2 linked regions of the Homo sapiens genome follow. The protein of the gene in region 2 purifies or fractionates together with the protein of the main gene of each other region. This does not show direct contact. Each region holds a gene or a part of one and is shown on either strand. Other genes may lie near its edges.

Region 1 (2,676 bases), on a different chromosome or scaffold from region 2:
GTCACAAGCTTTCGGATGGGCGGTGGCTTTTCACAAAACATTTAGCTCATCTTATTCTCTCTTTGTCCTCTCTCCCCTCCTGCCCGCCCGCACCCTGGAATTGCCACTCAGTTCCTCTGGGTGTGCACATATGTTTGGAGAAATAGAGGAGAGAAAAGAGGGCCACGTAACTGAGAGCTTACAGTGCCAATGCCGTTTGTGTTCTGGCCAGAGTGGAGTGCGCAGCCCTGACTCCCAGGCGCTGAGATTGTTGCCTGGTTACCCAGGAAGCTGCTGTTCCGGCTGCCCAGCCTTTCTCTGAGCCAGCGGATGCACAGTCCGTGGCCTTCTTCAGGCTTATTGATGATGCTTTTTGCAAATGTTGAATCATGGTTCTGTTTCTAAGTTGGATCTTTTTTGTTTTCTCCTTGCCACCCTAATTTGACATCAAAATTCTCTCTTGTGCATTGGGCCCTGGGTCATTCAAACCCAGGTCACCTCATTCCCCTTCTCTGTTCACACCTAATGTCTTGAAGAGTAGGTAGCAGCAGTGTGGGCTGAACCTAGGCCAGCTTGCTTAGCGGGTCACCCTGCTGTGAAGTCCTGGCAGGTGTTGGTAATGTGTGGAAATGCAGTCAGCAAGTTTGCTGGGGAGTTTGATAAAAGTATAAAACAAAACAAAAAAAGCCTCGGTATAATTTTGTTCCACGACTTCTTCTGTAGCTTTACACCAGAAGGAAGGAATGGGCTACAGCAGGTAGTGGAGGAAGAGGGGGGTGAGCAGGTGTATTAAAATAGCTTACGGGTAAGGCCTAAAAGGTCACCCCTCGGCCCCCTCTCCAAAAGAAGGGCATGGGCACCCCCAGGAGAGGATGGCCCCAAAAACCTTATTTTTATACATGAGAGTAAATAAACATATTTTTTTTACAAAAATAACTTCTGAATTTATCAGTGTTTTGCCGTTAAAAATATTCCTCTATAGTAAATTATTTATTGGAAGATGACTTTTTTAAAGCTGCCGTTTGCCTTGGCTTGGTTTCATACACTGATTTATTTTTCTATGCCAGGCAGTAGAGTCTCTCTGCCTCTGAGGAGCAGGCTACCCGCATCCCACTCAGCCCCTCCCTACCCCTCAAGATTTGATGAAAATTCCAACCATGAGGATGGGTGCATCGGGGAAGGGTGAGAAGGAGAGCCTGCCTGCTCAGGGATCCAGGCTCGTAGAGTCACTCCCTGCCCGTCTCCCAGAGATGCTTCACCAGCACCTGCCTCTGAGACCTCGCTCTCTGTTCCAGCAACCCTGGTTGGGGGGTCAGACTTGATACACTTTCAGGTTGGGAGTGGACCCACCCCAGGGCCTGCTGAGGACAGAGCAGCCAGGCCGTCCTGGCTCACTTTGCAGTTGGCACTGGGTTGGGGAGGAAGAGAGCTGATGAGTGTGGCTTCCCTGAGCTGGGGTTTCCCTGCTTGTCCAGTTGTGAGCTGTCCTCGGTGTTACCGAGGCTGTGCCTAGAGAGTGGAGATTTTTGATGAAAGGTGTGCTCGCTCTCTGCGTTCTATCTTCTCTCTCCTCCTTGTTCCTGCAAACCACAAGATAAAGGTAGTGGTGTGTCTCGACCCCATCAGCCTCTCACCCACTCCCAGACACACACAAGTCCTCAAAAGTTTCAGCTCCGTGTGTGAGATGTGCAGGTTTTTTCTAGGGGGTAGGGGGAGACTAAAATCGAATATAACTTAAAATGAAAGTATACTTTTTATAATTTTTCTTTTTAAAACTTGGTGAAATTATTTCAGATACATATTTTAGTGTCAAGGCAGATTAGTTATTTAGCCACCAAAAAAAAGTATTGTGTACAATTTGGGGCCTCAAATTTGACTCTGCCTCAAAAAAAAGAAATATATCCTATGCAGAGTTACAGTCACAAAGTTGTGTATTTTATGTTACAATAAAGCCTTCCTCTGAAGGGATGGTATTGAGTCCTGTTTTTACTTTTTTCTGTCACATGCCAAGGGAGGGCAGCTTGAACACGGAAAAGTTTCAAGTCATCAGCGTGACCCTGAAAAAGGGAACTGGTTGGGTGGTTGGGAGTTGGCTGCCTCAGAGGGCACGTCATTAGCTCTGATGGCAGATGGGGCCTTTCATACCTTCCTGCTCATATGATGTTTTGAAAATAAGAATGATGGTCTCCTAGCCTCCTGACTCCAGAAAGCTTGTTAGCCAGGATGGTCTCGATCTCCTGACCTCATGATCTGCCCACCTCAGCCTCCCAAAGTGCTGGGATTACAGGCGTGAGCCACTACGCCCGGCTGAAAGCCTGTCCTTAAGATTCAGCACATTTAGAGTACCTGACCCTGAGTTCAGCGTTGTGTGTGGGATGAGAAATGGTGCCTTCCCTGCAGAGGCTCACAGTTGGAGAAAGGCAGCTACCACAACTGATTATGCTAGGATATCGCTTCCTGCTGCAATCAAGGCATCCCAAAGTCATTATGCAAAAGAACATGCAGGAAGGCCACTGAGCAACTCAAGCTTTTTTTTTATTTTATTTTTTTATTTTAATTGAGTAGCTGGGATTACAGGCGCCACCACTCCCGGCTAATTTTTGCATTTTTAGTAGGGACGGGGTTTCACCATGTTGGCCAGGCTGGTCTGGACCTCCTGACCTCAGGTGATCCACCTGCCTTGGCCTCCCAAAATGC
Region 2 (2,960 bases):
GTGTGTGACTGCACGCCTGCTGAGGTGGCTGCTTTAGTCCTTGTCTACATGAGTGCGTTTTGCCCGTGTATCTACACGTGTCCGAGTTTGTGCCGGTGCACGGACGTATCTGCATTTATGTGTACACATGTGATTGTGGCATGACACAGGTGTATCTGTGCTACATAGCATTTGTATGTGACTGGAATTGGGGCACACGTGTATTTATGCATGTGTGATCTGTTGTGCCCGCACAAGTGTGTGTCACCTTCTGGCTAGGCAGGTGGCCACAGTTGCATGGATCATGCATGTGTAATGTGTGTGTGGATGTGGCACTTGGGGGTCCTTGCATACGCCCAGACCAGGGAAGACCAGACAACCCACGCTACATTCCTTTCTAGTGTGTTCTCTGCCTCCTCTTCCCACTCCATAAACAGGACCGATTTCCACCTCTTTCCCAACACCCACCCGGATTCTCGGTCCCTGTGGGGCTACTGCTTGTCCGGGTGTACCCTCTGACCCCTCAATGCCCATTTCTACCTAAGGAGATCCTTTGGGACCATCTGCAAAGACCCACTCTTCTGGGAAGCTTTCCCTGCTCTGCCCCCATCTTCTCCCGAACTCTAGGCGCCTCCCCCGAGCCCAGGTTTTTCCTCCACCCCAAATTCAACCCTACAGGATGAGAGTGTCTGTGTTTAGCTCTGTCCCAAGCTGGGACCCCCGCCCCCTCCCCCACACACACACCCTGACGGCAGGGTCTGAGTCATTTCTGTCCCTGCAACTTTGGGAACATCAGATGCAGGAGGTGCAGCCACCAAACTGACTGAGGGGGCGTGGCTGAATGCGGGGTCCTCGATCCCTCCCACCTCGGCCCGCGGGAAGGGGGCGTCACCTGGGCCCGGAGCGGAGGGCGCCACCCACACATTCTCGCCATTCTCCTTATCGGCTTCCACGTAGCCTGGAACAGAGAGGGCGGCCTGGAGGAAGCGCGGCGGCCAGGGGCGGCCCGGTCCGTCCGAGCGGGGGCGGGAGAGGTGAGCACTGGGCCCCCGAACTCCCCGAAGGGGCACCCACCTAGCACCTTCTCGTAGTCCTCGTCTAACAGGAATGGCACCAGCGCCTTTTTGGTATGCGACACGAAATAGTTGACCACGGCGTCCAGGGAGGTGCAAGAGAACTGGGGGCAGATGGGGGAGCGGTCAGGCTGCTGGAGAAGGGACGCGGACCCCACAAAGTCACTTCTAGGGACTCTGGCCCAACGCTCACCGGCTGTTCCACATCGATCACGTACTTGGGGCCCTCCCGCTTCACCTTGTAATGCCGGACCACGTGCGTCCTGCACCAGGAGAAAGCGAGTGAGTGGCTCAGCCCAGGCTCCCACACCGCCCCTCAGGGAAGGCCCCGCCCCAACTCCAGGCTCCGCCTCCAATAGAAACAGGTCCATACTGGCTCCGCCCCCACAGAAGGCCCCGCCACTGACTGGTTCCACCCCATAAAGGACCTAAGCCCCGTTGACCTCCCGGAGCACTGACTGCCCGATCCCAGCACTGCTCCCAGCGGGGACCAGGCCCGACCGACCCACCCCCACAGAAGACCCCACCTCTAGTCTTGGCACCACCTCCAGCGAGGGACCAGGCCAGACTGACAACACCCTAGGAAAGGTCCGCCCCTAATTCTGGCACCGCGCCTAGGGAGAACCAGGCCCTAAAGACCCCGCCCCAGGTAGGCCCCGCCCCCTGTAATGGCTCCACCCCCAGGCACCGACTCTACCTTCTACATCGCCTTGCCCAACCCTGGACTGGGCTTGAGAATTTGGCATAAGGCTCTGACTTCGCCCCCAGGGCTGGCTCCGCCTCCATAGCCCTACTCAACTTCCAAAAAGGATCACGGCCATGACTCCCCCCCGTAGATCCTGACGCTGCCCAAAGAGCCCATTCCCATCCCTGGATTTGACTTCATCCCCTCCAGTGGCCCAGACCTGGCCCCTGCGTACCTGACGTTCCGGAGGGGCCGATCCTAACCTAGGAGTCTGACTCCACCTACAGGGAGTCCCAGCTCCTAACCCAAGACCTGGCTCTTCCTGCAAAGGAGTCGGCCTGGGCTCTACCTTCTTCCCTAGGCATTAACCCCATACCTGGGGCAAGGCCAGCCTCAGGATCCCACGACCCCGGAGCTCTGATCCCGCCCCCAGCCCTCCCTGCCCAGCTCTGACTCCGCCCCCATGCTCCCCTGCCTAGCATTGACTCCACCCCTCCCCCAGCCCGCCCACCCCAGCTCTGACTCCGCCCCAACACGCCCAGCGTAGCTCTGATTCCGCCACCAGTGTACTCTGCTCAGCTCTGACTCCACCCGCCCCAGCTCGCCCAGCCCAGCTCTGACTCCTCCCCCAATCCGCCCAGCCCAGCTCTGACTCCTCCCCCAATCCGCCCACCTCAGCTCTGACTCCTCCCCCAATCCGCCCAGCTCAGCTCTGACTCCGTCCCCAGACGCCCGTCTCGGCTCTGGCTCCGTCCCCTGGCCTACCCACTAGCGGGTCGGACTCCGCCCCTGCTTCTGACCACGCCCCCGCGCCCACCCTCTTCCCACCCTCCTCCCACCCAGGGCTCTCCAGACGCGCATGCGCACCCGTTGTGCATCTGCCGCGTGGTGACCGACACGCCGTCGGCGCCGTCCCCGCTGGGCCGCAGCAGCAGGTTCCCGCACTCGGGGTAGCGCTCCAGGAGCAGTTGTGCCTCCAGCCGGCTCACCTTCAGGAAGCACCTGTGGCGGGCCGCGTCACCCACTCGGGACCCCGGAGACCAAGTCCGCTCTTCTGCACGTAAACCCTGCCTCCTCTGAGACCCAGCCCCATCCCCATCCCCTAGGCCCAGGAGACCCTGCCCTGCTCTCCAGACCCAGGCCCCTCCCACGGAGACCCAGTCCGGCCTTCCAGGCTCCTAGTTTTTGTGGGGTTTTTTGTTTTTTTTTTGAGACAGGGTTTC

The links.
Region 1: the proteins of STAP2 (region 2) and STAT5B purify together in Homo sapiens (co-immunoprecipitation; one study listed by IntAct). This does not show direct contact.

Annotation. Positions count from the first base shown.
Region 1 is NC_000017.11:42,198,448-42,201,123, reverse strand, and holds the end of STAT5B (signal transducer and activator of transcription 5B), read left to right. Parts: 3' UTR 1-1,947; downstream 1,948-2,676. UniProt on the Homo sapiens protein: Carries out a dual function: signal transduction and activation of transcription. Mediates cellular responses to the cytokine KITLG/SCF and other growth factors. Binds to the GAS element and activates PRL-induced transcription.
Region 2 is NC_000019.10:4,326,071-4,329,030, forward strand, and holds part of STAP2 (signal-transducing adaptor protein 2), read right to left. Parts: intron 2,740-2,960; coding exon 2,605-2,739; intron 1,316-2,604; coding exon 1,246-1,315; intron 1,157-1,245; coding exon 1,054-1,156; intron 938-1,053; coding exon 872-937; intron 1-871. UniProt on the Homo sapiens protein: Substrate of protein kinase PTK6. May play a regulatory role in the acute-phase response in systemic inflammation and may modulate STAT3 activity.